Homo sapiens: one gene and its partners. The protein of the gene in region 4 interacts with the protein of the main gene of each other region in a pairwise test. Each region holds a gene or a part of one and is shown on either strand. Other genes may lie near its edges.

What was found.
Region 1: the proteins of TMEM106C (region 4) and GOSR2 interact in binary tests that used the Homo sapiens proteins (3 or more experiments, as listed by UniProt).
Region 2: the proteins of TMEM106C (region 4) and SEC22A interact in binary tests that used the Homo sapiens proteins (3 or more experiments, as listed by UniProt).
Region 3: the proteins of TMEM106C (region 4) and TMEM97 interact in binary tests that used the Homo sapiens proteins (3 or more experiments, as listed by UniProt).
Region 5: the proteins of TMEM106C (region 4) and BNIP3 interact in binary tests that used the Homo sapiens proteins (3 or more experiments, as listed by UniProt).
Region 6: the proteins of TMEM106C (region 4) and TMEM218 interact in binary tests that used the Homo sapiens proteins (3 or more experiments, as listed by UniProt).
Region 7: the proteins of TMEM106C (region 4) and SMAGP interact in binary tests that used the Homo sapiens proteins (3 or more experiments, as listed by UniProt).

The regions. Positions count from the first base shown.
Region 1 is NC_000017.11:46,933,160-46,936,659, reverse strand, and holds part of GOSR2 (Golgi SNAP receptor complex member 2), read right to left. Parts: intron 1,632-3,500; coding exon 1,491-1,631; coding exon of another isoform or gene 1,380-1,490; exon of another isoform or gene 1-1,379. UniProt on the Homo sapiens protein: Involved in transport of proteins from the cis/medial-Golgi to the trans-Golgi network.
Region 2 is NC_000003.12:123,243,443-123,246,942, forward strand, and holds part of SEC22A (vesicle-trafficking protein SEC22a), read left to right. Parts: intron 1-2,456; coding exon 2,457-2,572; intron 2,573-3,500. UniProt on the Homo sapiens protein: May be involved in vesicle transport between the ER and the Golgi complex.
Region 3 is NC_000017.11:28,322,200-28,325,692, forward strand, and holds part of TMEM97 (sigma intracellular receptor 2), read left to right. Parts: intron 1-3,303; coding exon 3,304-3,448; intron 3,449-3,493. UniProt on the Homo sapiens protein: Sigma-2 receptor which contributes to ameliorate dysfunctional cellular processes and slow degenerative progression by regulating cell functions including cholesterol biosynthesis/trafficking, membrane trafficking, autophagy, lipid membrane-bound protein trafficking, and receptor stabilization at the cell surface.
Region 4 is NC_000012.12:47,966,596-47,969,378, reverse strand, and holds the end of TMEM106C (transmembrane protein 106C), read right to left. Parts: intron 2,697-2,783; coding exon 2,647-2,696; intron 2,172-2,646; coding exon 2,118-2,171; intron 1,247-2,117; coding exon 1,150-1,246; 3' UTR 501-1,149; downstream 1-500.
Region 5 is NC_000010.11:131,967,184-131,969,553, reverse strand, and holds the end of BNIP3 (BCL2/adenovirus E1B 19 kDa protein-interacting protein 3), read left to right. Parts: intron 1-984; coding exon 985-1,030; 3' UTR 1,031-1,870; downstream 1,871-2,370. UniProt on the Homo sapiens protein: Apoptosis-inducing protein that can overcome BCL2 suppression. May play a role in repartitioning calcium between the two major intracellular calcium stores in association with BCL2.
Region 6 is NC_000011.10:125,101,627-125,105,126, reverse strand, and holds part of TMEM218 (transmembrane protein 218), read left to right. Parts: intron 1-2,317; 5' UTR 2,318-2,393; exon of another isoform or gene 2,394-2,461; coding exon of another isoform or gene 2,462-2,490; intron 2,491-2,775; exon of another isoform or gene 2,776-2,809; coding exon of another isoform or gene 2,810-2,885; coding exon 2,886-2,995; intron 2,996-3,500. UniProt on the Homo sapiens protein: May be involved in ciliary biogenesis or function.
Region 7 is NC_000012.12:51,263,916-51,267,415, forward strand, and holds part of SMAGP (small cell adhesion glycoprotein), read right to left. Parts: intron 1-3,500. UniProt on the Homo sapiens protein: May play a role in epithelial cell-cell contacts. May play a role in tumor invasiveness and metastasis formation.

The DNA of each region.
Region 1 (3,500 bases), on a different chromosome or scaffold from region 4:
TAAATTTCAAAAAATGTATTCATTTTCAGCCACAAATTGGCCCCAGTCATCAGAGTGCTTCAGCCTAGCCCCTTCATGCCCTCTCCTATGTTCCTTTTGAATGGTGTAGGTGGAAAATCCCGACGGAGGCAGGGTGTGAGGCAGGTGGAGGGAATCAAGAGACAAACACCAGGTAGCCACAGGTGTGCAGAGGAAAGTTAGAAACCTCAAGTCTCAACCCCCAGCCACCTCACAGCCTTCCCCTCTGGTATCAGTGTGGGTGGCAAGAGGTGTGCTGATGCCCCAGCGCTGCCAGACTTGAGTGGGAAGTTAGCATGTGCCTTAACAGGACGCTCTAACCCCCACTGGCTCTTCATCAGTGTGACATGGAGTTTGGTCCTAAAAGGCCTCTACTGTTTTTCTGAGATATGAAAAGGAGAGTAGCAGTTTTCTAAAGAAAGGGCAGACTAATCAACATGTATCAGTTCAGGTCACTGCAGGTGGCTCTCATGAAAGGGGAGCGCCCAGCAGGCTGCTGGAGACCACCCTTCCAGGCCATCTGAGACACTGCAACTGTCAGCAGGAGGTGAGTGTCACTTGCAGCTTGCCTGACCCTCTCCCCCGTAGAGATGGCAGGGACTGTTCAGAAACGTACTGAAGTCCTGTGGAGCTGACAGACTCAACATGATCCAACAAAAACTAAGATAAAGCTCACACTTCCGAGTGACTGTTTCTCACAGCTCAGTGGCTGGGAGTGCTTCATTCACAGGGGACCACACCCTGATAACAGACAGAACCCACGCCCTATTATCCATCAGGGTTGATACAGGAAAAGGGCAGAGGCTGAAACATCATGACTGACATCAGAGTCTGTGTAATGTTTCTGTAAACCACTCCCAGGGGCTGGAGTCTCAGCAGTGCCAACTGGTCAGGGCTTCTAGGAATACCTAAGGCTAGGGAGTGAAGAGTCGCTGGGATCACCAGCACGGGCTTTAGAAGCTCTAGAAGCTTCTAAAGCTCTAATCTACTGCAAACAACCAGGCAGCCCTAACACTGCACAGTGGGGATTCAGTTACTAAAATACAAAAGGTTTTAGTTATAAGGCAGTCCACAGTAGGGGTCCTAAGGGAAAGCCACCTTAAAGCGAGGTACCAAAGGACAGCCACGTCTTCATTCTTCCAAGAGTAGATTCTGTAACACAATTTCTCAGCCTGTGATTGGACCCCTCGTAGTAGCACTCACTTTCATGATAAGTTCAGTAAATGGGAAAAGACCTGGATCCTAAGAGAGGCCACTTCATGGTTTGTTTCAAGCACTGGCAAAGGAACTGGGTACTTTCAGGCTCACAATAACTCAACTCCAACAGAAAGGATCCCAAACTCAAGGGCTCTGTCTTGTCATCAAAATATCACAATTTGAGGACACGTAATCAAAATATAAACACAGTTACTAAACTGTTGGATGAGGCTAAAACAAGAGGCCTTCTCTCTGTCCCCCAGCAGGGACCCCACCTTCAAGGTCAGTCTCTGGGTCCTCAGTCCATCTAAAATATTGTGCCCATCTAAAATGAGGTCATCCATGCCGTTGTGAACTTTCTGGAGGGAGGAGTTAAACTGCAGTGATTCGTCCATTGGTATGGTGGTGTCAGAGTCCTGTGAAAGAAACACAGGCACTTGATTAACTTTGCTTATCAGTCAGTTCCTGGGGTCTCACTGCTCTGTCTTTTGGCCAAGGCCAAGCCAGAACAGCCGGAGGGGCTGGTGAAAGAATCAGCGGACCCTAATGGATAAGAAAAAGCAAAGCAAAGGCCTGGGGTGGCCTCTGTCCACACAGAAGAGGAACTTCCTCAGATCTGTCACTCTCCAAATGAGTTCCACTCCACAAGTATCGTTCATTCCAACGATACTTGTCTCTGTATCATGATCTCCTCTTAGGAAAAGCTATTCCTTCAAGACCTCATTGGGTGTCTCCTAAAGGCTTTCTCTGACTACTCACTAACCTAGCTGGTTCCAAATGTTCCTTTCCATGGCTTCCCCTTAATGCAGTGTTAAATGTTTGCTCGTGTCCTTTAGCTATTTTATCTATAGTTTACCTCTCCAAGTAGACTGAGAGTTAACTAAGGATAGAGGAGGCTGTGCTTCTGCATTTTCTTTTTTTTTGAGACAGGGTTTCCCTCTGTCACCCAGGGTGGAGTGCAGTGGCGCGATCTCAGCTCACTGCAACCTTAGCCTCCTGGACTCAAACAATTCTCCCACCTCAGCCTTCTGAGTAGCTGGGACCATAGGTGCATGCTACCATGCCCAGCTTTTTTCTTTCTTTCTTTCTCTTTTTTGTATTTTTGGTAGAGACAGGGTTTCACCATGTTGCTCAGGCTGGTCTCCAACTCCTGTGCTCAAGGAATCTGTCCACAGGCCTCCCCATTTTATAGATGAAAAAATGCCCAGAGAGGTAGAATAACTTGTCCAAGATCACACAGCTGGAAGTGTGTCCAGTGATCACAGAGCTGGAAGTCCAGTGGAGCTGGGAATGTGGGTACTGAGCGCAGGGCCTGCCCTGTTACCCACACTGTAGAGGGAAACACCAACGCCCATCCTGGTGGCTCTACTTTTGCTCTGAAAGTGGACTATAGGCAGGAGCCAAGTCCTCGCCAGCTGTGAGAGCGTTCCCTTCTCTTTTCTGCCAATCACAAGCTCTCCTGCCAAGTAGTGCTGGGGTTTGTTTCGTGTTTTTTTTTTTTTTGAGACAGGCTCTCACTCTGTCACCCAGGATAGAGAGCAGCCTTGACCTACCAGGCTTAAGTGATCTTCTCACCTCAGGCTCCAGAGAGTAGTTGGGACCACAGGCTCACGCCACCACGCCCGGCTAATTTTTATATTTTTTTGTAGAGACAATGTCTCACCATGTCACCCAGGATGGTGAACTCCTGAACAATCCACTGCCTTGGTCTCCCAAAGTGCTGGGATCACAGGCGTGTGTCATTGTGCCCTGCTCCACTAGTGCTGTTTTTACCACCTAAATTCCAGTTTCAATTGTCCAAAAAAAAAAAAAAGGTTATGCCACTGTTTCTTTGCTGCTCAGATTTGGAATCATTTTGCACATACGTGTTTTCAACTGCCCCTGCTAACAGGGGAGCTCCTCACAGATAGGCGTCAGGTCTTTTAATTTCATCATGTGCTTTACTCCTAGTGCCTGAATTAACTAGTTTTCTGCATGCAGCTAATGCCCAGTGTGTCAGAAGATGCTGGCGTTTGAAAGACTCAGAGACTTCTCTTCAGTAATTTGACTAGCACTTATGAAATGCCATTCACATACAAATCTTTCTTACCCTCCCATCTAAAACAGTATGGCTGATGGGCCATTATCTCTCAGAAAAATGTATTATAGCTCCATATGGTAGAATGACCAGGAAGAAGTTTCATCTGGCAAGTCAATGTTTATTAAGAACTGACGGTGTGCACAGCATCACGCCAGGCTGGCAAAAAACAAAATAATCCCAAGCGATCATCCTTGGCCTAAAAAAG
Region 2 (3,500 bases), on a different chromosome or scaffold from region 4:
TTCACATTCTTTTCTCTGCGTGGAATGCATTTCTTCCCCTTTGTACCTGACTACATTTTATCTATCTTCAAAGCTCTTTCCTGGTTCTAGACCACCCTCCCCCTACTTTATCTTTCCACTTCATCATTCCTTGCCTCTTTTAGCTTAGAATGCTTATTACTTTCATATACTTATCTGTTTTATCTCTTTTATAAAAGACTAGAAGTGCCTTGAGGGCAGAATATGTAATTCAATTTTTGTATCTTCGAAAGCATAGCATCTTACACAGAACCATGCCAGAAAGTATTTACTGAATAAATATATTAATTTACTGTAACCAATAGCTCTTTGGTTCCTTTGGTTCTAAGGGGTTTATTCTTACTTCTTTAGGAACTTTTGCAGAGTCTCCATAAACCATTGGTACATTTTCAGAAACATTTAATTTTGTTATCAACATGCCATCCTTGGGTTCAAGAAGACTAAAGAAAAGACTTTATAGGAGAAGGCAATAATAACAAAAGCAAAACAAAAACTGACCAGATGACACTGCTTTGGATTCAGCAAAATTATTGTTTTTCTACACTGCCTCTTATTTGTTATTGTTACAAACATTCTACACCAAATATTATAGTACCTAGAATGGTGCCAAATTAAGCATTTTTGGATAATAGTGGATCTAAAATCTGTTTTACTGAAGTAAAAAAAATAACAAATAGTTAATACATTAAAATGTGATTAAATATCTAGTTCAGTTTGTTAAAATGAGAAATTATTAAGAAGTGTCACCTTCTTATGTTGTGGGCAGATGGAGTATTCTCTTGATAACTTCTCAAGGAACAAGCCACAGAACCTGGGAAGTGGGTGGGGGCGGAAGTGGGGGAATCTCTAGAATTTCTTCCCCACAGTGATTTGGCACAACGCCAGCTGTCCTTCAGCAAAGGTGTACTGTGTTCTTGTTAAAGGAGACTTATGCTTTTTAAAGGCTTTTATGCCTTTAAATGTATAGACGAATTAGATAGATTTTTAAATCGTGAATTTTTTTTTCTTTACTGATATAACACTTGGAAGCAATATTGAATAGTGACATTTAATTTTCTGTTGTCATATTACAATATCAAGGAAATTGATTGAGAGCAGGCAGCTTGGGCACCAGAGAAGTTTAAGAAAATGTTATATAAGCACTTTCTGCTGAACTTGGGGAATAAATACTTTTTTGTGATATGTAGATTCTTGTGTTTTTATAACTGTTTAGGGAAGATGTTCTGCTATAATGGCTGAATATAAGTTGCAGAGATTTAAACCCGCCCTTATATTAATGTTCCACCTCATTAACTTAATTGTTAGGGCGTTTACACTTCAGTGATTTAAATAAAATACTCTAAATGTGGTTCTGTTGTCTTTCCCTCTGTCTCCTGTTTGAGGTCTAGATGATTATGTATTTAGTTATGTGTTTTCATGTAGACCCTGTTGTTAATTCTATTAAGCGTAAGATGATGATGAAGGGAAGCTATTGTATAACTTTTGTGCTGCTGCAGCCCTGGAAGATAAGGGAATGTATTTATGAAACTAAAATGGTCACTTATTCAGCTGGTGTTTTGTCATTTTTACCTTCCAGTGTTATTCAGAGGACCAGGAACTTCATAGCTATAAGACTCCATTCTGTTTTGGAGTTCAGATTGCTGATTATATATGAGCTTTCACATGTATCCAGTGATATTTATAGCCCTAGAACCCAGATAAGGCAAAGTTTTGCTTAAAAGTAAGCTATGTTTGTACTTTAAAATGTTTCCTAAGCATTTTCAGAAAAAGTAGGATTATGCAATGAATTTCCAAGCAAAGTCACCTTTACAAATACTTTCACCTACCTGCAAATAGTAGACATATTTATGCAGTAAGGTTTTTTCTAAATGATTTACTGCCGGTTGTGAGCATCCCTTAGCACTGTCTATCCCAAATGCAAGTTACATGTCTTTGTTAAAAACATAGAGAAAGGCCAGATGCAATGTCTCATGCCTGTAATACCAGCACTTTGGGAGGCCAAGGTCAGAGGATCACTTGAGGCCGGGAGTTCAAGACCAGCTTGGGCAACATAGTGAGACTCTGTCTCTATAAACAATTCAAGAAAAAATTAGCCAGGCATGGTGGCACGTGCCTGTAATCGTAGATAGTCGGGAATCTGAGGCACGAGGGTCGCTTGAGCCCTTGAGTTTGAGGCTTGTAGCGAGCTGTGATTGTGACCCTGTCTCAAAAAAAAAGGAAAAAGAGAAAAATAAGTTAATTTTTCAGGGAAATGAAGCTTTTATGTTGTCAAGCATTTTTCATTTTATAACAGTATTTAATTGTGAATATATGGTGTTAAATAATTCTATGAAGTATCTGCTTGACCCATTTAAGTTGAGCAGTGAATTTCTGTTTTACCTAAGTTCATCTTTGTGAGGTATTGGTGTTCATTTCTAACTATTTCTTTTATTTTCCAGCTCACCAGCGACTGGAACCAGCAACTCTGTCAGGGATTGTAGGATTTATCCTTAGTCTTTTATGTGGAGCTCTGAATTTAATTCGAGGCTTTCATGCTATAGAAAGTCTCCTGCAGGTACTGTGCTATTTTTGCAATTTCAGGTGACTGTGCCTCTTCATTCTACTGGTTACATAATTGATTTGAATTGGATTGGGTATTAGTATAATTTACAGTGCATACTCAAAATCTATGTTTTTTTATATCTGCTTTAGCCTCCTTCTAAAAACACTGGTTGGCTTCTTTGATTCCATTGGCACATGTTTATCATCTGCTCTTTAGGAGGCACTATTTATAGGCACCCTGGGGACCCCAAGATGTGTGTGACATAGGCCTTGCAGTCTCATAACTGAAAGTTGAACTGGGGAGGCAAGAAAGTAATTGCCAAATACACAGAGTTGGGAAGGGGGAGAGGTCAGTATAATCAGGATTGGAGAAGGAAGGTTTTGTGGAGGAGAGTTGAACTGGTCCTGGAAAGATCTGATCAGACAGAGAGCAGTGGAAGAATGAAGAGGGCACACGTGGGCTGTGTTTATTCCACTTCTGTGTATTCCCTACTTAGTTCATCTGCTTCTTTTTCTTTTTTTGTTAGTGGCTTCTTAAAACTTGAGCTTCCTAGAAAACCACAAATTTATTCAGATATTGCTAACTATTACATTTTCAAGTGGAGTTCCTTTCAGAAGCTATAGCTATCAGAATATACTAATTTTTTCTCTTATGCTTTTTGTAAACTTTTTGAAATTTTTTTTTAAGTTTAGCACATTTGAGACTGCACAGCTTTCCTTTCCCTTATTTCTATTCACTTTCTCTGAAGAACTCTTGACACTCTCACATTATGAATCAGTCCTCTTTTTTTGGTCAGCATTAAGTGCAGAATACCATTTGTAAAAATCCACTGAGCACACTTTATATTCTGTTTTTAAATTGCTGTTAGTTTGGGGAACCCTCAGAGGGTATCTTTCTGCATCTGTTTAGCCATGTAAAGCCAACAGCAGATGACATCACA
Region 3 (3,493 bases), on a different chromosome or scaffold from region 4:
GCTTGGAAAAACTCATTTTTTTATTTACTTTTTGTTTTTCTTTCTTTTTTTTTTTTGATTTTGTTTTTGAGACAGTCTCTTGTCGCCCAGGCTGTAGTGCAGTGGTGCAATCTCGGCTCACTGCAACCTCTGCCTCTCGGGTTCAAGCAATTCTCCTGCCTCAGCATCCCAAATAGCTGGGATTACAGGTGCTTGCCACAACGCCTGGCTAATTTTTATATTTTGTTATAGATGGTGTTTCACCATGTTGGCCAGGCTGGTCTCAAACTCCTGACCTCAAGCGATCTGCATGCCTCAGCCTCCCAAAGTGCTGGGATTACAGGTGTGAACCACCACGCCTGGCCTGGAAAAACTCTTATTTTATTATGAAACAGTAAGAATTTAGTTTGGATAAGAACATGGTAAGGAGAGGATGGGAAGCATTTTGTAGTATCATTTGCAGCTGGGTAACATTGCTTCTGGTAAAAATAAGGAAAAACAAGTGAGCATCTGGCTCTGAAATCAGTCTGTGTTCCCATTCTAAATTATAGAAGTACAAGATTGGTGAGTAGCAACCACTGGTTTAGAGATCGTGCGTGCAGGCCAGGTGAATCTTTTATGTATAACAAGGGTGGGTTGAGTCAAATAGAGTCAGGTATAAGTGGAAACAGTTTCATTACCTTTGGTAGGGAGGCCATAACTAATAATTTTTAATGACCAGTCGTGAGCTGCGATTTTAATGGGATTAAACTTGAATATCTCCAAATATGTATTAATTACATTCAATTAATCATTATGTGCTAGCCATTATTTTAAAGACTACATGTATTAAGTCACTCTCTTACCAATAGTGAAGTAGGCACTATTACTGGCTCTATTTTATTGATGGGGACACAAGTGTAGGGAGATTAAAGGCCTTGCCTAAAGCCAGGCACTCTACCCCAGGTCCTACACGCCTCACCCATCTGCCAGGTGCCTGGGCTTTCTACTCTCCTACTCACAATTAGTCCCAGCCTCATTCTGGCATCAGGTGGCAGGTATATGACTGTGGGCAGATGGTTGGTTACGATTATGATAATTCATTATTACGACATCTGGGTGATTGTTTTTTAAATTTTGCTGATCTCATCTTGTAGGCCTTAGAAATTAAAGTGCTGTACAAGTCTGCCTCAGTTTATGAAATAGTTGGATCAGAGAGGTTGTAAACAAATTGAATAGAAAGTGAAGTTCAAATGGCCAGAATGCCTTTTTTTTTTTTTAATTTTTTTTTGAGATGGAGTCTCGCTCTGTCACCCAGGCCGGAGTGCAGTGGCTCGATCTCGGCTCACTGCAACCTCAGCCTCCAGAGTTGCTAGGATTACAGGCGTGAGCCACCACACCCAGCTAATTTTTGTATTTTTAGTAGAGACGAGGTTTCACCATGTTGGCCAGGCTGGTCTCAAACTCCTGACCTCAGGTGATCCACCCGCCTTGACCTCCCAAAGTGCTGGGATTATAGGCATGAGCCACCGGGCCTGGCCCAGAATGCCTCTTAAATTTTGCAGTCAGGCCGGGTGCAGTGGCTCACACCTGTAATCCCAGCACTTTGGGAGGCTGAAGCGAGGATCGCTTGTGCCCAGGAGTTCGAAACCAGCCTGGGCAATGTGGCAAAACCCCGTCTCTACAGAAAATTAGCTGGGCTTGGTGGCGCATACCTGTAGTCCCAGCTACTGGGGAAGCTGAGGTGACAGAATCATCTGAGCCCGGGATGTTGAGGCTGCAGTGGGCCGAGATCAAATCACCACACTCCACCAGCCTGGGCAACAGAGACTGTCTCAAAAAAAATAATAATAATTTTATAGTCAATCTTTTAAAGCAGGTAGTGTCATCCAGTATTTTTAAAAATCTAAAAAGCAAAAAAGGGATCTTAAGAAAACATCTAGTCCAAGTTGCTCATTTTACAGATGAGGAAGTAGAACCCTGGAGAGGGACAGTGACTTAGCCTTTGTGTTTCTTATCAATTCAATCCTATTCAAACCACATTCCCATCCAGAAAAGTGCTTAGAAGGAAGCGAAGGGCATTGCTATGAATTTCAATTTCAAATTAAGTACAAATTTGGATATCCTTTGGTCAATAAATTGGTTATCTAGCCAAAGCCTTTCTGAAATTAATAATATGCTAACAGGATATTTGTTTCTGGATGTTTGCTTAAAGTGCTCTTGCAGCAGTGGGGCTTCTATTTCACAATAGCGAGGCTTTATCTTTTGATTAAAAATTAACAGGAAAAATATTCTTGGATTTTCCATTGTAAGTAAGATAAATTCTTACCCTGGAGTTGCCTTTATTAATCATAATATCAAGACTTATTTGTCTTTGAAGGCCTGTGTGTCAGGGCAGCGCCACATCTAGGAGGTTAAATGTGACAAACGTTTAGTAGTCCACATAGAGCCAAGAGCACTAGGCTTTGGGCTCCTATAAAAGCCCAAGATGGGAAGCCTTAAACTCTGCTTCTTTTCTCTGCCTGTAGCCAGGTCAGCATGGATCCGCATCCTTTTTATTTGACAAGGTAATTACAAGCGTGGGGCCCAAGCTAGAACTGAGACGCTAAAACCCTGCATAACCAAGAAGCTACTAGGTAGTTTGTAGTTTGGGGCAGAGTTTGTTCTTCCACTAAAATCCTGTCTCCTAAAATAAACCAAAAATTAGAATTAGGGGAGTTAAGGAACTTGTTTGTCATATTGGAATTAAAGTGTCCAAAATTACATCGCCACAGAGGTTAGATTTACTTCCCCTTTCACTCCCACCCCCACCCCGCAAAAAGAAGAGGGAAATTCAATTCATTTCTGCATTTGAGGGAATCTGGCCTTTGGAGGAGTTTGGTGTGTAGTTGCCATTACAAAAGGGAAAGTGTCAGGATGGTTTTCATGTGTATTTGTTTTTTTAAACAAAGAATGATATTGTTGACAGAAATGTCACATTTGTTCATTCAGCGAACACCCTGAGTGCCTACCAAGTGCCAGATACTTATTGTTGCTCCTGACAGTGGCCAACACACCTGGATGTGTTATCTTGGAATTATGAACAGATTCTGGGTAACACAAAGAAGGGGCTGGAAGAGTTGAGAAAATTTCAGAGAAGGGAACATTTGAGTTAGGGATAGTAAGTTTTTATTAAATGACCACCTAGGCTGTGTCACAAAAGCCAGCTGGACATGCCATCTGCTGCCGGGGTAGTGGGGGGTGGCTAATTAATGACAGGCTCCTCCAGTGTATTTTCAAATGAGCTAGCGCCGAGCCTGTTGAGGGCAAGTGGCTGTAATTCATCATGATCGTTTTCTTTTTCAGTTTAGAAACCTGCTGAAGTGGTATGCTAAGGAGTTCAAAGACCCACTGCTACAGGAGCCCCCAGCCTGGTTTAAGTCCTTTCTGTTTTGCGAGCTTGTGTTTCAGCTGCCTTTCTTTCCCATTGCAACGTATGCCTTCCTCAAAGGTTGGTAAATGGTGGGAAAATCCCATTTTTACTCAGAAATCAGGT
Region 4 (2,783 bases):
ATTAAGCAAATATTGAAAACCAAGCTATGGGAATGGAGACAAAAACTAATATACAACCCCAGCCACCACCTGTTGTTGTTAGGGTTTCCTGAGGTCCCAGTGCTATGGGAAGAGCTGACTTCTAACACCTGACTACTCAAGCTTCTTAACTAGATTCTCTGCCATCCTGGGGCTGTAGCCTAACCTCTGGTGGCAGAGCAGGTGGAGATGACCCAAGAAACTTACAACCTCAAACCAGGATGTCTTATTCAAGACTGAATTCCAACCTCCATGGGGCACTGAGTGCTCTGTCCTGGAAGGGAACAGGGTAGCCCCCTGCCGCAAGAGGCAGATGGAAGAAAATGAGGCTGCTTGCTGTGACAGGAACTCATGGGAACGGGAGTACAATCAGGGTGCAGTCTCTTTCCTCCTATTCCATCCTGACCCACTTGGAAGGGAACTATTCTACGGTTCCCCCAGAGATCCCTACAAAACACCCAGGCAATCAGAGGAGACACAGATGAATCAAAAGCAGGGTTTATTTTTCTATCAAATCCCCAATCCATGTTCCAGCCAATGGATGAAGGGTGAATCAAGCCCCACATAGACTCTTGGTAAAAACAATTCTAACTTTCTAAAAAAAAAAAAAGCCAACACACTTTTTTCTTTCTTTTCAAAAAGCTCCCAGGCCTTTGGGAACAGCTGAAACAAATTCATATCCTGACTAGGTCTGTTTTCTCTTAGGTATTTGGATGGTCCCTCTCTGCTGCCACTTCTGCACAGATGAGGCACTGATAATGGCCTGCAGGTCACTCACAATCCTAGCTCCACATCACTCCATGGTTTGATAACCTAGAACCACGTTATGATTTCCATTTATAATGCCCTAAGAACAGCTGAAAAGATCTGTATTAAATTCTGCAAATCTTTATTGAGTGCCAACTATTTGCTGGGCACAGGCTAGGCACTGATTCTGCTGGTTCTGAGAAACATAAATGGTACCATAGGGAGGTGTTTCCTCCTAAGTGGCAGGAGGATGTTTGCTGGGAGTTAAGTGAACCAATTCCTCCTCTGCTTACACCACGTGGGGGTAGGTCCAGAACTCAGGCCTTGGGAACATATGCTGTGCTCTCTTCTACAGGCGCTGTGTGGAAGAACCAATAGCAGTTGTTAAATAGCTGTGGAATTTCCTCCACAATCCACATAGTGATGTGTCTCCAAGGAGCTCTGGGTCATGAGGCCAATGTATGAAATCTTCACTGAAGTTCTAGGGAAAAGAAAACCAAGAAGAATTAATTATGTTTGGGGGATGAAATAAGCCAGAAAAATGTCCCAGGAAATTTTTTGCAAGTTCAGAGAACAATACCCACGGGCCCCAGGCACATATCCTCATGGTTATGTAACCAGGAGGCCAGAAGATCTTTCCACTTTCACAGAGATACTGTGCCAGGAGGTGGCCTTCCAAACAAGGCTTCTCAATCGAGAATGATTTTACCCCACAGGAGACTTCTGGCAATGCCTGAAGACATTCTGGGTTGTCACAACTAAGGGATGGAGGGTTTACTACTGGGATCTAGTGGGCAGATGCCAGGAATACTGTTAAACATCCTATAATGCACAGAACAGCCCCCTACAACAAAGGTCTGGCCCAAAATGTTCGTAGTGCCAAGGCTGAGAAACTCTGCTCTAACCCCTCATATTTCATGTCTGCAGCAGAGTCTTGTCACTTGCAAATTTAACAGCCATGCTTCCAGAAAACAACCCTAAAGGTCCATGACATGTGGTAATTTGTGTGGCTAGAGAGGAAGTCTGGTCAAATGCCCAGTACTTAACATCTTGAGAAAGCTTTTCTGTTCATGACTGTCTCATTAGGATTCTGAGGGGATCAAGTGTTTAGTTAAACTAGACCCATTTTATGGAGAAAATGTTTGACTGCTCAGGGTGACTGGTGATTTGTGAAGGGCATGTGGACACTGTGTTTAGAGAACACCAAGGGTCTACTGTATCTGTGCCTGTGAGGCACAGGGTGTCCCCTCGGGCTAGGTGCCTCTGCCCTGTGGTCACACAGGGGCCTCCTGAGCAAAGGTGGTAGGCTCACATGGCCGGACAGGCCATCGGGATAGGGAAGAGAGACGCACCGCATGAAGATCACTATGTTGTGCACCAGGATCTCAGGTACCGTGCAGAAGAAGCTACCAAACAGCAAATATGGAAATAGTCAGTTTTTTTTTTTTTAAAGCCTCAGTAGAAGAGTGCAGAGTTACACTGTCCTGTTTGGGGTGCCCCCCTCCCCCTTCCGACCTAAGTGCTGCCAAGGCTTGTCAGCTCTCAGTCCCTGCCACTGTCATTTTCATCCTCCCACAGCGTCATACCACTTTCTGTTTTTTCAAACCCATCACATAAGTGCTGGAGCTTGGTAACGTTTTTAGTGGCTTAATGTTCTCTTTTAGAAATTCCAGCACTTCTGTCACATATCAAATAATACATTCTTCAAATACACACATAATAATAATACATTCTTCAAATAAATCTCAAGACATCCAAAGCCAGGGAACCTATAAGTCAAAAGCTGAGATCTAAGGCAGGACCAGGCCCCAATCAATGGAGTATGACTTTGAATCCCTTTCCTCCAGTAGAGAGCACACACAGAGAGAACAGTGTCCTTACTACACATAGGAAAACGGTCCTCCCATCTCGGCCTTCCCGGTAAAATTCACCTGAAAATAAGATACCAGAGTTGGTCTGTGGCCAAGCAGGCTTGACACAGAACAGTATTATTATTAGCAATCCAAAGACCTTGGGTC
Region 5 (2,370 bases), on a different chromosome or scaffold from region 4:
CCTCGCCCTCCCGTGTGCGTGGCTTTCTCCTAGCTCTTGGGCACATTCTCACGTCCCCCCCATAACCCGTCACCTTCATTTCTGCTGGTGCTTTTGGGAGTCAGACCTACAGACTGCATCAGCATCACCAGGCAGTTTGCTTTCTGGAGCCTTTTCCAGAACTGTCAAGCAGACTCTGGGGGCAAGGCCTCGGGATCCTCATTTTAAATACAAGGTTTAAGCCCTTCGTTTCAGGATGGATTTCTGCAGCCACTACTTCCCAGCTACTGTCCTTCGTCCTGCCCGGGTTTTCAGAGCCTGATGCTGCCACTGGCGACCCACACCCCCTCAGCTGCTTTTCAGAACCACACGATAAAATCTGCCCCGAAAGCTGCTGCAGCACTGTCTGCGCTCACAGTGCCCACCACACCACCGCCCACAGGCCAGGCCAGCCAGGCTTCCGATTCTGCCCTTTCCTGGAGACCCATCCTCCTCCCTCCGGGAGTGATGCCCGCTGGTCAGCTGGAGCGAGCCTCTCTATTGCCGAAAAGCCTTTTCTGACACTCCTGCATCTTTAGTTTGGGACATCTCTCCCACTACCAAACTTAAACCACATGAGGGCAGGGGCTTCATTTTTAAGCAGTTGGCTTTGGTGAGGCTGGTGGTGATGAACTAGCAACACCATCTTGCCCTGGTAGGTGACTTCCCCCAGCACTGAGTTGGAACAAAGCAGAAGCTTTCTGTGTGGAAACAGCATTCGGTTTGGTGATCCTTCTATGTAAGAATACGATCTGATGTTTTCTAAGTTAATTAATACAAAATACATATTGATAAAACACTAGATAAAAGATCACAGATAGATTCATTACAAAATTTTTATAATGGGTATAAAATCACCAGTCCCCTTGCATAAGCTCTAACCACAGTGAGCTACCCTGTTTCAGCTGTAACACAGTCTCCTGTGAATCACAAGATACATTAACTACTGATAATTTTTCTGTGAAGGATCTATATTGGAAGGCGTCTGACAACCTCCACCAGCACCTTTTGATGAAGAACTGGAGTCTGACTTGGTTCGTTAGTGGATTACTTCTGAGCTTGCAACATAGCTCACTGAAGAGCTGTTAGATCCTGGGGTGGCCACGTCACTTGTGTTTATTTGTTCTGTAAATGCTGCGTTCCTAATTTAGTAAAATAAAAGAATAGACACTAAAATCATGTTGATCTATAATTACACCTATGGGATCAATAAGCATGTCAGACTGATTAATGTCTACTGTGAAAATTTGGTAGTAAATTTTCATTTGATATTAGATATAAATATCTGAATATAAATAATTTTAATATACTAGTCATGATGTGTGTTGTATTTTAAAAATTATCTGCAACCTTAATTCAGCTGAAGTACTTTATATTTCAAAAGAATGAATAACATTGATAATAAAATCGCTACTTTAAGGGGTTTGTCCAAAATAAATATTGTGGCCTTATATATCACACTATTGTAGAAAGTATTATTTAATTTAAATGGATGCAGGTTGTCTACTAAAGAAAGATTATATATAACTATGCTAATTGTTCATAATCAACAGAAACCAAGATAGAGCTACAAACTCAGCTGTACAGTTCGTACACTAAACTCTTCTTGCTTTTGCATTATAAGGAATTAAGTCTCCGATTATTAGGTGATCACCCTGGATGATCAGTTTTCTGCTGAAGGCACCTACTCAGTATCTTTTCCTCTTTATCACTCTGCATTGGTGAATTTAATCCTCTCCTTTGTGTTCAACTTTTGTGTGCTTTTAAAATCAGCTTTATTCTAAGCAAATCTGTGTCTACTTTAAAAAACTGGAAATGGAAAAAAAAATAAATCTTTGCCAAATCCTTCAGATTACTGTATTTACATATGGTTTAAAATCAGACGTCATGATAGCTTCTTAATGAAACCAGGACTGGTCCCTATTTTGACATTATCTTTCCTACAGCAAACTTTTTAGAAAGGCTGCCTGCCGCCTTGATGTTTCACCTTTCCACGCTTAATTCGGGTGTTAAATCTAACGTTTTCATTTGTAAAAATCTTTGTTGATGCTACCTTGGAAGCAGTCATCTCTCAGTCTTACATTTGGAGAATGTGGATGGCATGACATCAGAATTCCTTTATATAATTTAACTTCAGAATAGTCTGAGATCATCGAAGCACGATGGTCAAGGGAATTCCGTTTTTGTTTTAGAGCAAATATGTTTGCTGTTTGTCTTTCATCACAAACATCAGTGGAGTTTCAGCACCTTACAGAGCTCAGTGAACCCCCTGGTCACCATCAAAGTTAGCACACAACAAAGCCAACCACGTGTCCCCCTCACAGATGACAATGGCTGAACTCTGAGTGAAAC
Region 6 (3,500 bases), on a different chromosome or scaffold from region 4:
TCCAACTAAGTCAGTAGCAAATTATTTAGACCCTATTTCAAAAACTGGTCAATCCTGTGAGGGCCCAGCTTTCTGCATTGTTCTCATTGCTAGTTCTTTGCCATCGTGGGCTTGAGACCTTATCTGCCCTGAAGAGAATCACCCTGAAGGTCTGTATCAGGCACCAGGACCCTCGTAGACTTTTAGGCTCAGCTCAGGCCTTGAGTTACATTTTTTTATAGCACTTAATGATTTTTCTTTATTGCTTTCGAGCTCTGCTGTGTACTAAATTCTTCTTGTTCTATTTTATTGAACATTTATGTGTTTGCTGTTGTATGAGGCACTTCCCTTGTTAACTTCCATCCAGCATATTGACCAGAGGTTACAGTCATCTTTCTAAAACTCCATATGATCCTTTCACTCCCTCACCTGATGTTTGTGGACTTGTTAGCACTGTGTCATTTATTCCTCCCACAGATACTTGTTGTGCATAATCTCTGTGCTAAGAACTGGGGTTACCACAGTGAGAAAGATATCAGGTCTCTGCCTTCGTGGAGTTTACTATTCTAGTTGGACAGACAGAAAATAAACTTGTAAACAAATAAATGAAAATATTAACTAGTTTTGTGAAAAATGCTCTGAAGGAAATAGAGTGATGGAGAGTCAGTGTTTGAGGGGTTACTTTAGAGAAGACACTCGGGGAAGACCTCACTGAAGAGTGACATTTAAGCAGAAATCAGAAGGCTGAGGAAAGCCAGTCCTACAAATAGTAGCAGGAGTGCTTGGGGTTGAGGGCTAGTTCCAGGCAGTGGAAACAGCAAGTACAAAGACCCAGAGATGGGGAAACCCCGGGCGTGTTAGAGTGACCGAGATGGCGCCCATGTGGCCCTAATGAGGGCAGACTGCTCCCCAGAGAAGTTAGGCATGCAGGTGGGCCCCAGGTCCCATCTCCCCTCACTCTGTCATCTTTTCACTCTGATTCTTTCCTAAATGTGCCTGTGCAGAGTATTTCCTTTGTAAAGCCCCTCTCACTATTGCAGTTCCCACTGCACTTCGCTTTTACCATTAATCAGAATGTAATATGGACACTTGTTTTCAGGACAATGTTCTCCAATAGACCTTGAGCTTCTGTCAGAAGATATCTTATTCACCTTTGGCATCCCCAGCTTGTAGCGCAGTGCTTTACATGGTGGGAACATCATAAATGTTGATTCAATAAACGTATTTTTTTTACCAGTTCATGCTTAGACCCTCCTTTCCAATAACTTTATAACTTCTCATAGCTAATATTTTCGTGGTATTTAAACCATAAGGGTAAAGAAAACCAGCAACCTAGAGGAATGTGTTTGCTTAAGACTTGTCTCCAATGCTGAAAAGGAAAACCAGGAGAGGTAGTGTGGTGTGCTGTTCCTCTGCTGTGAGTTGAATGGTGGTCCCCAAAAATATATGTCCGCATCCTCACCCCTGGAATCTGTGACCATGACCTTGTTTGACAAAAGGGTCTTTGCAGATTTAATTAAGTTAAGCATCTCAAGATAATACTAGATTATTTGTACAGACCCTAAATCCAATGACAAGTACCGTTATAAGAGACAGAAAATGTGAAGACAGACACAGGAGAATGCCATGGGAAGATGGAGGCAGAGACTGGAGTTGTGAGTTAAAAGCCAGTGAATGGTGCCTGGAGCTACCAGAAGATGGAAGAGGCAGGGAAAGATTCTCCCCTAGAGCACTGATCCCCAATCTTTTTGGTACCAGGGACTGGTTTCATGGAAGACAGTTTTTCCACAGGGGGATGCAGGGGGGTGGTTTCCGGATGAAACTGTTCCACCTCAGATCTTCAGGCATTAGATTCTCATAAGGAGCCTGCAACCTAGATGCTTCGCACGTGCAGTCCACACTAGGGTTCGTGCTCCTGTGAGAACCTAATGCCGCTGCCACTGATAGGACAGGAGGCGAAGCTCAGGTGGTAAGGCTGGCTTGCCTGCTGCTCACCTCCTCCTGTGCGGCCCAGTTCCTAAAAGGCCATGGACCAGTACCAGTCCATGGCCCAGGGGTTGGGGACCCCTGCCCTAGAGCCTTTGGAGGGAGCACAGCCCTGCTGACACCTTTATTTTGGATTGCTGGCCTGTGAGAAAATAAATTTCTATTTTGAGCTGCTAATTAGGAAACTAATAGATACCCCATCGCGCTTATATCTCACTTACCCATCCTGTAACATGGCTATAGTAATACCTTTCTCAGAAGCTTCGCTCCGGGATTCAATGAGATATGTTTGTACGGCACTTAGCACACAGTGAATGTTCAAAAATAGTGATGGCTGTTCCTCTTCTTTAAGGACTGGGAGTTTTCATCCTCTTGAATAAGAACTCGACAACAGAGTGGGAACTTTCTGTCTTGTGATCCATTGCCTGGTGAGTCACAGCTCACACCATGGATTTAACCTGAGAGCTTCAACTTCTGCTTTGGCCCTGGAGTTCCCATGCCCTGGTGTCTTCTACCAGTTCTTAGGTAGGGTTTTATATTCAGAGAGGGTTCAGCTTTCTCCCGTGGGCTGGGGGAAGAGGTCAAAGTAGAACTCAGGTACCAAATTTGAAAGGAAACACTCAGAAAAAACTTCTGAGCGCAGAGCGGAAAACACCCTCTCAGTCCCCACCAAAGAGAAAGGCTTTGGGTTCTAAATTTCCAGTTTCCATTAAGGGACTCTGGGACTGGACATTTCTGAAAATTAATGACCTGTACTGAGTAATCCTCCTAACACACTGATCATCAAAAAATAACCTGTAATGAGTTTAGGCTTTCTGTATTTGTCTGAATGCTTTCACGGGAGTGTGTTGCACTGGAGCACAGAGGACACTCGATCGTGCGGCGCGCAGGGCGGGGGGCCGCCGCTGCCTCCCCGCGGGATGGCTGGCACTGTGCTCGGAGTCGGTGCGGGCGTGTTCATCTTAGCCCTGCTCTGGGTGGCAGTGCTGCTGCTGTGTGTGCTGCTGTCCAGAGCCTCCGGGGCGGCGAGGTAAGGCATTCTGTCCAACTGGGAGTCCTAGGTAAAGCAATTAGAGGCAAAATCGCTGATGCTCACTAAACATTTAGAATTTAAGAGATCAGTTTTGTAATTACTGGCAGTTTGAATGAGTTGCATTTTAACCTCTTTTTATAAACACTAACTGTGTTATTTATGCTCTGGAGCAGAGATGGGAGGAGAAGGAAGTAGTGTTCTTGAGTTCTAACTGTGGCAAGAAACTCTGCTTTCACTGCTTATTGAGTTTCTTGAGGCTGTATGTGTATGTGTTTATGAATTGTTCAGATTTATGGCAGAGGCTTGGTCCAGTACCCGAGGCTCTAGCCCTGGACCCAGGAAAACGAAAGCAACATTTGATGAGTTGGGCCTGCTTTCTATATCAGGCATTGCCTTCAGAACAGGGTTAGGCCATAAACCGACTCTGAAAACACTAGAGTTGCACTCTGGCAAGACAGTGTTAGTATGAAGCAGAGAGTTGTAGAATTTTCTAAAGTATTCT
Region 7 (3,500 bases), 3.3 Mb from region 4:
CCATTCAATTACTAATTATAAATATTAATTATATTATATTATATTCTTCCTTACACTGATGCAGTTGTAAAATATGATTTTTAATATTTTTTTAAGTGAAGGAGGAGCCCACAAAGACAGAAGTGCCCAGGGCTCAGGAGTCATAATGTGGCCCTTCCTTTCAAGGTTCCTGGAGGATATCTTCTCTAGGAAGTCTTTATAGACTGTGAGGGAGGAATAGGTGGGAAGGTGGGGGAAGAGAAATGCAAGACAGGGGTAGAAGAGAAGAGCTGGCCTTTAGTGATCCCATCATTTAAAGTATAAGCTTTCTTCCTATCTGTGATTTCTATTCTTTTGTCTATTGCTGTCTCTGAACTTACACTTGCTTGGACCCAGTGGATAGGAGACTGTCCTAAATCACTACTTCACTCATGTCACTCGCTGGATCAAGAATGCAGCCAGGTGAGGTGGCTTGCGCCTATAATCTCAACAACTCAGGGGCAGAGGAAGGAGCATGGCTTCAGGCCGGGAGAGTTGCCTGAGCAACATAGCAAAACCCTATCTCTACAAAAAATTTTAAAATTAGCTGGGCGTGATGGTGCACGCCTGCAGTCCCAGCTGCTCAGGAGTCTGAGGTGGGAGGATCCCTCAAGCCCAGATGTTTGGGTCTGTAGTGAGCCAGGATTGTGCCACTGCACTCCAGCCTGGGCAACAGAGTAAGATCCCATCTCTTAAAAAAAAAAAAAAAAAAAAAAGGTCAGGCACAGTGGCTCATGCCTGTAATCCTAGTACTTTGGGAGGCCAAGGCAGGCGGATTGCCTGAGCTCAGGAGTTTGAGACCAGCCTGGGCAACATGGTGAAACCCCGTCTCTACTAAAATACAAAAAATTAGCCGGGTGTGGCAGCGTGTGCCTGTAATCCCAGCTACTCAGGAGGTTGAGGCAGGAGAATTGCTTGAACCCGGGAGGTGGAGGTTGCAGTGAGCCGAGATGGTGCCACTGCAATCCAGCCTGGGTGACAGAGCAAGACTCCATCGCCAGAAAAAAAAAAAAAAAAAGAGAAAGAGAGAGAGGACTGATTCAACGATCAATTTTTTAAAAAAAATTTTTAAAGGATATAAATATACAACTGAACAAGAACAAAACAAATCAACTAAAAAATGGGACAAGACTTGAATAGACATTTCTCCAAAGATATACAAATGGTCAATAAGTACATGAAAAGATGCTCCACATCACTATCACTAGGGAAATGCAAATCAAAACCACAATGAGATACCACTTCACACACAATATGATGACTACCATTAAACAGAAAGTAACAAGTGTTGGCAAGGTTGTAGAGAAACTGAAACCTTTATGCATTGCTGGTAGGAATATAAAATGGTGCAGCTGCTGTGCAAACCTATATGGTGGATCCTCAAAAAAATCAAACACAGAATTACCACATGATATAGCAATTCCACTTCTGAGCATACATCCCAAACAACTGAAAGCAGGGTCTCAAGAAGATATTTGTACACCCATGTTTATGGCAGCATCAGTCACAATAGCCAAAAGGTGGAAGCAACTCAACTGTCCATCATAGATGAATGGATAAACAAAATGTAATATACACATACAACAATATTATTCAGCCTTGAAAAAGTAGGAAATTGTGACATGCTACAATATGGATGAACTTTGAGAATATTATGCTAAGTGAAGTTAGCCAGACACAAAAGGTCTATTGTATGATTCTACTTACATGAAGTACCTAGAGCAGTCAAATTTACATAGACAGAAAATAGAACGGTGTTTGCAGGGAAATGGGGAATCAGTGTTTAATGGGTGTCAAGTTTCGGTTTGGGAAGGTAAAGTTCTGGAGATGGATGGTGGTGAGGAACATGAATTACTTAATACAGTAGTCCCCCCAGGCCAGGCACTGGCCTGTAATCCCAGCACTTTGGGAGGCCGAGGTGGGCGGATCACGAGGTCAGGAGATCAAGACCATCCTGGCTAACACGGTGAAACCCCGTCTCTACTAAAAATACAAAAAATTAGCCGGGCGTGGTGGTGGGCGCCTGTAGTCCCAGCTACTCGGGAAGCTAAGACAGGAGAATGGCGTGAACCCATGAGGCGGAGCTTGCAGTGAGCTGAGATGGCGCTACTGCACTCCAGCCTGGGTGACAGAGCGAGACTCCGTCTCAAAAAAAAAAAACAACAGTAGTCCCCTCTTATCTGCGGTTTTGCTTTCCTAGGTTTCAGTTACCCGTGGTCAACTGCAGTCCGAAAACATTAAATAGAAATTTAACAGAAAAAGAAAATTCCAGAAAGGAACAATTCATACATTTTAAATTATGTACCGTTCTGAGTAGCGTGATGAAATCTCACACCCTGCTCCATCCTGCCTGGAAAGTGAATCATCCTTTTGTGTCCATGCTATAAACGCTTAGTAGAGTACCACAGCGCTTGTGTTCAAGTAACCCTTATTTTACATGACAGTGGCCCCAAAGCACAAGAATAGTGATGCAATTTGGACATGCCAACAAGAAGTGCTTCCTTTAAGTGAAAAGGTGAAAGTTCTTGACTTAAGAAAAAAAAAAAAAGAACTGTGTACTGAGGTTTCTAAGATCTATAGTAAATAAGACATTTTAAGTGAGAGAGACCATTTTCACATAACTCTTATTACAGTATATTGTTATAGTTGTTCTATTTTATTATTATTGTTAATCTCTTACTGTGCCTAATTTACAAGTTAAGCTTTATCATAAGTATGTATGTACAGGAAAAAACACAGTATAGATGGGGTTCAGTACTATCTGAGATTTCAGGCATCCACTGGGGTTTTTGGAATGAATCCCCTGTGGATAAGCGGGGACTACTCTACCACTGAATTGTCTGCGAAAAAATGGCTAAAATGGTAATACCTGTACTATGTTTATTTTACCATAAATTTTAAAAAAGAAAAAATGGCATGAGCCTGTAATCCCAGCACTTTGGGAGGCCGAGAAGGGCAGATCACTTGAGGCCAGGAGTTTGAGACCAGCCTGGCCAACATGGCGAAACCCTGTCTCCACTAAAAGTATACAAATTAGCCAGGCGTGGTAGCGCACGCCTGTAATTCCAGCTACTAGGGAGACTAAGGTGGGAGAATTGCTTGAACCCAGGGGGCGGAGGTTGCAGTGAACCGAAATTAAGCCACTGTACTCCAGCCTGGGTGACACAGCAAGACTTGGTCTCAAAAATAATAATAATAAAATTTAAAAAATGTAAACAGCTCCCCCTTGCCAAGGTTCTAATCCCTCAGCTAGCTGCCAAGGTATCACCTTTTTTCCCTTGTGGGCAGGATTATTCTGGAGGTCCTCTGCCCACCCGCTTCCTGAACATCCTCCAGGGTAAATCGTCTCTGTAGCTTCACACATGGTATGAGGTATTCTACCTTTATCTAGAGCAGGTACACACGAAAAAGGTATTCTACGTTTCTCTAAGATACCTGCTGCGCCCCTTTGCCTGTATGAACCTTGTCCGTCTTTCAAGGGC